2 linked regions of the Homo sapiens genome follow. The protein of the gene in region 1 interacts with the protein of each later gene in a pairwise test. Each region holds a gene or a part of one and is shown in the gene's direction. Other genes may lie near its edges.

What was found.
Region 2: the proteins of RAB6A (region 1) and SNRNP35 interact in binary tests that used the Homo sapiens proteins (3 or more experiments, as listed by UniProt).

What each region holds. Positions count from the first base shown.
Region 1 is NC_000011.10:73,718,960-73,724,036, reverse strand, and holds part of RAB6A (ras-related protein Rab-6A), read left to right. Parts: intron 1-3,137; coding exon 3,138-3,191; intron 3,192-5,077. UniProt on the Homo sapiens protein: The small GTPases Rab are key regulators of intracellular membrane trafficking, from the formation of transport vesicles to their fusion with membranes.
Region 2 is NC_000012.12:123,463,366-123,468,091, forward strand, and holds the end of SNRNP35 (U11/U12 small nuclear ribonucleoprotein 35 kDa protein), read left to right. Parts: intron 1-2,172; coding exon of another isoform or gene 2,173-2,175; coding exon 2,176-2,916; 3' UTR 2,917-3,571; downstream 3,572-4,726.

The sequences.
Region 1 (5,077 bases):
AAAACCTATTTGTTAGAAATATTTGCTGTACAGGAATTGACATACATAAAGTTTGTGGTGTTTTATTTATGTAACTAAAAAAAATCTTATATATTGAAATGCAGGGTACTGGTTTACAGTATATAGATATGTGGGTAGGAGTGGTGAGAGTCATTTTCTTAGCCTTTATTGAGTATCTTATCTAAAAATATTGACATCGTACCATAATATCTTTTATTGTCCTTTTCCTGGTTTTTTTCTCTCATACTACTCTCTAATATACTATTTTACTTAATTAGCTTATTGTTTGTCTTAGCAGACTGTAACCTTTGCAAGGGCATAGATTCTTGTCTGCTTTTTATTCTTTTACCACAGGATTCTCAGCTGCTAATGATGGTGCCTAGTAGGCAATCAATAAATATTTCTTTCGGCCAGGCGCAGTGGCTCATGGCTGTAATCCCAGCACTTTGGGAGGCCGAGGTGGGCAGATCACTTGAGGTCAGGAGTTCGAGACCAGCCTGGCCAACATATAGTGAAACCCCGTCTCTACTAAAAAATACAAAAATTAACTGAGTGTGGTGGTGCACACCTGTAGTCTCAGCTGCTTGGGAAGCTGAGGCAGGACAATTGCTTGAACCTAGGAGGCGGAGGTTGCAGTGAGCCAAGATCACCCCACTGCACTCCAGCCTGGGTGACAGAGCAAGACTCTGTCTCTCAAAATAAATAAATAAAATAAAATAAAATAAGTAAAATAAATCTTTCTTTTTTTCCCCCCCAGTATTTGGAAGGAATAGAGTTCAATAAATATTCCTGATGAATGTGGACAGGTGTACATGATTTTTAAATGTGTTCCGTCCAATTTGGGTAGAGACTAACTGCATGTTTGTTCATCACTCTAGTACCTTACACAGTACTTGCAAGTACGTGCTTAATAAATATTTGATGAGCAAGCTGGGCACATTGGCTCATGCCTATAATCCTGGCACTTTGGGAGGCCGAGGTCGGGGGGAATCACTTGAGGCCAGGAGTTCGAGACCAGCCTGTCCAACATGACAAAACCCCATCTCTACTAAAAATACAAAAAGTAGCTGGGCTTGGTGGTGAATGCCTGTAATCCCAGCTACTTGAGAGGCTGAGGCACTAAAATTGCTTGAACCCAGGAGGCAGAAATTGCGGTGAGCCGAGATCACGCCACTGCACTCCAGCCTGGGCGACTGAGCGAGACTCTGTCTCTAAATAAATAAATAAATAAATAATCGATGAACGAATAAATGAGAACTAAATGGGGCAATGTGTATAAATCGGCACTTAGTAGATAATCAATTTATGTAATTTACTGTAGCTTTCATTCTTGAATATATGTAAAAACATGTAAAGACTTATCAACATTGCATTGATTTTTCATATAAAGATATTATCTTTAGGCAGGGTGTAGTGGCTCATGCCTATAGTCCCAGCGTGTTGGAAGGCCAAGTGGGGAAGATCTCTTGAACCTAGGGGTTCCAGACTAGCCTGGACAACATGGCAAAACCCTGTCTCTATAAAAAAATACAGAAATTAGTGGGGCATGGTGGCATGCACCTGTAGTCCCAGCTACTCGAGAGGATTGCTTGAGCCAGGAGGTTGAGGCTGCACTGAGACAAAATCACACCCCTATATACCAGCTTGGGCAAGAGTGTGAGACTGTCTCAAAAAAAAAAAAAAAAAAAAAAAATATATATATATATATATATATATATATATATATATATACACACACACATATATATTTGAATTTTATTTACGGAAGCATCAGAAAAGAATAAAATACTTAGGAACAAATTTAACAAACAGCATAAGACTATACAAAACACTGCTGGGAGAAATTAAAGGAGACACATGTATTAGTTTGTTCTCATGCTGCTAATAAAGAGATAACCCAAGACTGGGTAATTTATAAAGGAAAGAGGTTTAATAGACTCAAGTTCCACATGGCTGGGGAGGCCTCAGGAAACTTACAATCATGGCAGAAGGGGAAGCAAACATGTCCTTCTTCACATGGCAGCAACAAGGAGAAGCACAGAGCAAAGAGAGGGGAAATCCTTTTATAAAACCATCAGATCTCGTGAGAACTCAACTATGACACACACAAAATTCTATTTTTCTGCTAACAGAAATAAAATCCCCAACTGATGGACCACTTTTCTGATCTAGTTTTTGATTGTTTTTTAGGAACTTAAAATTCTTAGTGACTCATATTTTAAAATGCACAGACTCAGTTTCTGTTTTAAGGAATATGGCACAAAGATATTTAGGGAAAAAGTATGTATGTACACGCACATATATACATAGTATATGTGCACACAAACATTAATGAGGTGGTAAAACTTCTAAAATAGAGTCCATATCAACATCCTCTTTCTGGAGTCTGTCTTTCTTCCATTCTTTTTATTTATCTCCCCTAATTAATACTGGACTGTTTTTTAACTTGTATACTTTTTTTCCTTTCTTTTTTGTAGTCTGCCTTCTTTCTATTCTCTTATTATTTCACCATTTTCTCTTGATAGGGAAAACAGCAGCCAGGCAATAGAACTTTACATTTGTTTTCACCACAGAAGGAAGCTATCATTGTGTGGTACAGAGGAAAACTTGTTTTCCTTACCTAATGACTTTTATTTTATATTGGAAAAATCATGTCTCTTATGGAAAGTTATGATGTTTGTGAGTCTCTGGCTGTCTATGGCATTAGGACAGTTGACAATATATCAACAGTATTTTATAAAACTGCTCTTGGGGCAGATACTTACCATTCTGAGTGGAGAACAATCAGATACTCAAACTAAAGTTCAAATACAAATATTTAAACCAAAGTTGCCATTGTCTTGTTATTTGTAAAATGAGAAAAGTAGGGATGAGAATAAGCTACCTGGCAGGAATGTATAAAGATTAGAGATGATCATGTAAAAGGCTTAAAACAATCTCTGATATGAAGCAAGTGCTGAATACATGAAAATCATTATCACTGGAAATTTTGTTTGTCCTTAATTGTCCTTAATTGACTATGTTGTATTGATTTGTTTATTCATTATTTCTTCCACAATCATGAATCCCATTTGAATCCTAAACTGCTGGCCACCATTAAACTTATTATTTGTTAACTTCTTTGTTTTGTTTTACAGGCAACAATTGGCATTGACTTTTTATCAAAAACTATGTACTTGGAGGATCGAACAGTGAGTAATATTTTCAGTGTGCAATTTTCTGCAACATTCCAGGTTAGAAAACTGCAATCAAAGTTATCAATGATTGTCACCATAAGAAGTACTTAGCAAAGTTACCAAAGATAGTTTACAGTTGTTGAGAAAAACTCTTATTACCGAGTGAGTAGTACTTGGCAGTCATCTTGATTTGGAAAAATGAAAACAAAGAGCTTTACAGAGAATTAAAGGAGAATTTTTATGAAGAAATTAAACCTGCTAAAGACCTTCTAAATGCCACCCTTGAGGCATTCAAAAAGATTTCAATTTGTGAACTTCAAGATTTTTTTTGTCAGGATAGGATGCGTATCAAAGTGACTGACAAAAAAGAAGTTATGTGGGCAGGGTGCGGTGGCTCACACCTGTAATCCCAGCACTTTGGGAGGCTGAGGCAGGTGGATCATCTGAGGTCAGGAGTTTGAGACCAGCTTGGCCAACATGATGAAACCCCATCTCTATTAAAAATACAAAAAATTAGCCAGGCGTGGTGGCGGGCGCCTATAATCCCAGCTACTTGGGAGGCTGAGGCAGGAGAATCGCTTGAATCCAGGATGCAGAGGTTGCAGTGAGCTGAGATTGCGCCATTGCACTCTAGCCTGGGCAACAAGAGCGAAACTCCGTTGCAAAAAAAAAAAAAAAAAGTAATGTGTATTTATTTGTTGGATTTTTGTCTTTCATCCTTTGGAATGTTTTCTTTAAATACAGTGTAAAATCTGTATTCTAGCCCACTACCCCTTGAAGAGATACTTGTCACCTAAACAGTGAATATCTTAAATGCAGTACTTTGAGACCTGCACCCAAAAACATTATTTAATTTCCAGTGTTATTTCTTAGGTGTTTTTTTTTTCCTGAATATTCTCTTTTATGTTTTGATATATAGCATGTCATTTCTTAAAATTTGAAAGCGGCCAGGTGTGGTGGCTCACGCCTGTAATCCCAGCACTTTGGGAGGCCAGGATGGACAGATCACCTGAGGTCAGGAGTTGAAGACCAGCCTGGCCAACATGGCGAAACCCCATCTTTTCTAAAAATACAAAAATTAGCTGGGCGTGGTGGCGGGCGCCTGTAATCCCAGCTACTCGGGAGGCTGAGGCAGGAGAATCGTTTGAACCCGGGAGGCAGAGGTTGCAGTGAGCCGAGATCACACCACTGCACTTCAGCCTGAGCGACAAGAATGAGAGTCTGTCTAAAAAAAAAAAAAAAAATTTGAAAGCTTGGAAACGACTTTATCATGATGCAAGAACTTGATACTTGTTTTCAGGCTTTTCTTCCTGTAATATAGATATGGATAGTACGTAAAGACATTTTTATGTAGGGCTGCAAAAAGATCTTCCTCCTTTTTGTTACATTATACACACACACGCGTGCATGCGTGCGCGCACACACTCGCATGTTCTGGGGAAAATGTATGGGAGAAATACAAGCACGGTAGTTAAAAAACAGGTTTGAAAGTATTCTAGACCCAATAGGAAAGAGACACATTTTAGCTTGAGAGAAGCTTTCAAAGAAGCATTAATTCCTTTACTCTGATAGCTTAGGCTGCTCATTGACATTTACCTTAGGTTTTTTTGTTTTGTTTTGTTTTTTTCTCTATTTAACCATCAACAGTCTACTTTTTGCCACTTGAAAGGCATAGGGATTCAAACAGGTTTTAGGTAGGGAAAAAGGGAAGCCATATTTCTGATTCTGTGAAATTTTTCCCAGTGGCATTTTCCAGTCATTTATGTTTGGAGTATGCAAATTTTTAATATTTCTCCCTTTTGAAAAAGGAGTTTTGTGTTATTTTCATTCCTCACTCCCTGCAACCTCTTGCATGAGTCTTCTTTCTACTTCCTTCCCACCCTCTCCCTTTTACAAAAAAC
Region 2 (4,726 bases), on another chromosome or scaffold:
TTTTTTTTTTTCTTTCTTCTTTCTTTTTTTGAGACAGACTCTCGCTCTGTCACCCAGGCTGGAGTGCGGTGATGCGACCTCGGCTCACTGCAACCTCCGCCTCCTGGGTTCAAGCAATTCTCCTGCCTCAACCTCCCGAGTAGCTGCGACTACAGGCGTGTGCAACTGTGCCCAGCTGATTTTTGTATTTTTAGTAGAGACGGGGTTTCACCATATTGGCCAGACTGGTCTCAAACTCCTTGGCCAGACTGGTCTTGAACTCCTGACCTCGTGATCTGCCCACCTTGGCCTCCCAAAGTGCTGAGATTACAGGCGTGAGCTACCGCGCTCGCCAGTTTTGTTTTGTTTTTTTTCTTAACTTTTGGGACTTCTTCCAGGAAAGACCTGGTTTGGTTTTTATTTTTTATTTTTTTTTTTGAGACAGAGCCTCGCTTTGTTGCCCAGGCTGGAGTGCAGTGGTGTAATCTCGGCTCACTGCAACCTCGCCTCCTGGGTTCAAGCCACTCTCCTGCCTCAACCTCCTGAGTAGCTGGGATTAAGGCGCCCACCTACCTCGCCTGGCTAATTTTTTTTTTTTTTTTTTTGGAGACGGAATTTTGCTCTTATTGCTCAGGCTGGAGTGCAATGGCGTGGTCTCGGCTCACCGCAACCTCCACCAACCTAGTTCAAGTGATTCTCCTGCCTCAGCCTCTTGAGTACCTGGGATTACAGGCGCCTACAACCACGCCCCGCTAATTTTGTATTTTTAGTTGAGATGGGGTTTCTCTATGTTGGTCAGGCTGGTCTCGAACTCCTGACCTCAGGTGATCCACCTGCCTCAGCCTCCTAAAGTGCTGGGATTATAGGCGTTAGTCACTGCACCCAGCCAGCCAAGGTTTTTTTTTTTTTTTTTGAGATGGAGTCTTGCTCTGTCGCCCAGGCTGGAGTGCAGTGGCGCGAACTCTGCTCACTGCAAGCTCCGCCTCCCGGGTTCAAGTCATTCTCCTGCCTCAGCCTCCTGAGTAGCTGGGACTACAGGCGCCCGCCATCATGCCCGGCTAATTTTTTTTGTATTTTTTAGTAGAGAGAGCGTTTCACCGTGTTAGCCAGGATGGTCTCGATCTCCTGATCTCATGATCCGCCCGCCTCGGCCTCCCAAAGTGCTGGGATTACAGGCGTGAGCCACCGCGTCTGGCCTCAGCCAAGGTTTTTAAGTAACATATTTCAGCATTGGCTCTACAGCGTTGCAGGTTGGTCACATAAGCATTAGCTGGGTCTGAAATATTAGTAAGCATTTTATTATTCCAGCAAAGATTCACATGAATTAACTATGTATCAGAAGGCATGACAACTGCAGTGTGCTTGCTGGACAAAAAATTACCATTGCAGTAAATTCTCATGCTCCCAGTCTAAACGGATTATCAGCTAGGGATCTGAGAAGAAATCCCATGTTCCTTTTGAGACAAATAACCCGCTCCCGCTGCTGGGTCACTGTAGCCTTAGCTTTGTTGTCTGTTTACTACAGAATGGTGCATCCAAATCCCTGTTTTCTCTTGTAGTTTTAAAAAAGTCTATATCTTTTAATGATGCATAGTAAAAAAATTTCCACACGAATGATGTGATATCTAGAATTTGTTTCAGAATTATCTGGGGGCAGATTATTCTGGCCACATGTGCATGGTGGTTCTAGTTGAGCCGGGTGAGAAGTTTGTGGAGGGTTATTATATGATTCTCTATGTTGGTATTTGATATTCTTGGTAGTAGAGTTTTTAAATTGCCATTTTCCACCAGCAGTTCCTGGGCTAGTTTTCCTATGATCATTTTAAAGGTTCTGAAAGAGAAGTCTGGTTTTGATCCACGTTGCCACATTGTAATGTGTTCATAGTTGGTAAGTGCCCTTCCGTGGCTGAGCCAGATGCTGCATATATGGGTGAAACCCGAGCACGCTGCCCTCTGCTTCCTGAGAGGGCATTTGTAGGAGTGGGTAAGGGCTTCTCTGGAGCACAACTGCCTGGCTTTGGTGCTGTCTCCCCCACTTACTAGCAGGGAGGACTTAGCCTCTGTGGGTGTTCCCTTCCTTTCCTGTTTTTAAGAAGAGGTGAATGATAGTATCCTTTTCATGGCATTGTTGTAAGGGTTGAATGAGTGGCTCAGAGTAGAGGCTCCATCCACGCTTGCTCTTATCATTCATAGAACATGAACGATTGGATGCCCATCGCCAAGGAGTATGATCCACTCAAAGCGGGCAGCATTGATGGCACCGATGAAGACCCACACGACCGCGCGGTCTGGAGGGCAATGCTGGCACGATATGTCCCCAACAAAGGTGTCATAGGAGATCCCCTCCTCACCCTGTTTGTGGCCAGACTAAACTTGCAGACCAAGGAGGACAAATTAAAGGAAGTCTTTTCCCGCTATGGTGACATCCGGCGGCTTCGGCTGGTCAGGGACTTGGTCACAGGTTTTTCAAAGGGCTACGCCTTCATCGAATACAAGGAGGAGCGTGCCGTGATCAAAGCTTACCGAGATGCTGATGGCCTGGTTATTGACCAGCATGAGATATTTGTGGACTACGAGCTGGAAAGGACTCTCAAAGGGTGGATCCCTCGGCGACTTGGAGGCGGTCTTGGGGGAAAAAAGGAGTCTGGGCAACTGAGATTTGGGGGACGGGACCGGCCTTTTCGAAAACCTATTAACTTGCCAGTTGTTAAAAACGACCTCTATAGAGAGGGAAAACGGGAAAGGCGGGAGCGATCTCGATCCCGAGAAAGACACTGGGACTCGAGGACAAGGGATCGAGACCATGACAGGGGCCGGGAGAAGAGATGGCAAGAAAGAGAGCCGACCAGGGTGTGGCCCGACAATGACTGGGAGAGAGAGAGGGACTTCAGAGATGACAGGATCAAGGGGAGGGAGAAGAAGGAAAGAGGCAAGTAGAGGCCCAACAGCAGAACCCCAAAGTGAAGTTACAGTGGAAATGAGTGGAGGGGGATTGTCTTTCAACGCAGCGTGAGTCTAATGGTTGAATAAAACTTACTGATGATCATGGGGTTTGGAATAGTTTTCTTTCCAATCTGGAACTTCGGTTCAAGCTGATAGGAATTTATCATCTTCCTCACATAGTTCTAAGGACATGTTATTTAACAGGATCAAGAAGCAATTTTGTAGTTACTGGCATCTGTACAGAAGGGCATTTTCTTTTCTTTTCTTTTTTTTTTTTTTGAGACAGAGTCTCACTCTGTTGCCAGGGCTGGAGTGCAGTGGTAAAATCTTGGCTCACTGTAACCTCTGCCTCCTGGGTTCAAGTGATTCTCCTGCCTCAGCCTCCCCAGTAGTTGGGATTACAGGCATGTGCCACCATGCCCGACTAATTTTTGTATTTTTAGTGGAGATGGGGTTTCACCATGTTGGTCAGGCTGTTTTCGAACTCCTGACCTCAGATGATCCACCTGCCTTGGCCTCCCAAAGTGCTGGGATTACAGGTGTGAGCCACTACTCCTGGCCTGGTCTCCAACTCTTGACCTCAAATGAGCCACCTGCCTTAGCCTCCCAAAGTGCTGGGATTACAGGCATAAGCCACTGCGCCCAGCCAGAAGGGCATTTGTAAGGAGCTAGTATTCAGATTTAATTTGGCAGTAGGAATTTGATTTTCTTCCATCTATTTTAAATGATCATCTTGAGTACGTGGCAAAAAGAGGTTATGACCTAATCACACTCCTCTGAGTCCTTAGAGGAAGAACACTAATCTGGTCAGAATAAATTGTATCTTTTCTATCTTTATATCCATAGCCCAAGAGTTTGCTGAATTGAAATAAAAATGGGATAGAAAAGTGAATTCAAGGAGAATGTCCAGAGCCCTAATACCAGAAGGCAGTCTGCACAGCCAGGTCAGCATTCTTGAACAAATGCACTTCCATTCTCACTCAAAATGCCGACTGCCTTTCTTCTTTTTCTGACTGACATTTAAAATTAAAAACCAAAGTTGCTGGGCTGTGATCTATGGCAGCCTTCCAGCCCTTTGAAAAGATAAAGTTAGACAGAAGTGGTGGTGAAATGAAAATGAAGAATAAGGAGTGGTCAGGATCTATGAAAGAATTACAGCTAGTTCTGATGGATTGATTTTTCCTTTCTCTCTTATCTAGTCTCTGGGGTGCTCGAGAGCTAGATCTGCTGACCTTAACTTCTGAGGACTTTGAGCAAGTACCATACTGTTCGGATGATTTTCAAAAAAGTGACATTTAGCATTTTGATAAATGGCCGTCTTTGAAAGTTCATATTCTGAAAATTCAAGATGTTTCATGCAAAATAAATGATTTAGTACCATTGCTAGGTTTTCGCATAGGAGTATGAATCTCTCATGATATTATACAGGGAACTGGACCAACCTGCTGTGGCTTAAAATTGCTGTCAGCTGTTAGAACAGTTTTAGAAAAATAGGCCCTTTCCTTTGTGAATTTCCAGTACAGAATTTTATTATTTCCCAAGTCTCAGAAAACAACCTTGCAGGAAACCTTTTTGATTTCACTCACATTTAATTTACAAAGTGTTCCCTTATTATGGCACCAGAAGGGTGTTGTGGGCTAGGGTTGGTAGATTGTCTAGAAAACAAGACTGCCTGCATTAGGGAAGCCTTGTGAGATACCATCAGGACAAAAAGCAAAGCCAGTTGCAGTGTTTGTGTAGTTGTCAACTCTGAGCATCAGAACAGGGAGAGATTGAAAACATGCACACTTGGCTGGGCACGGTG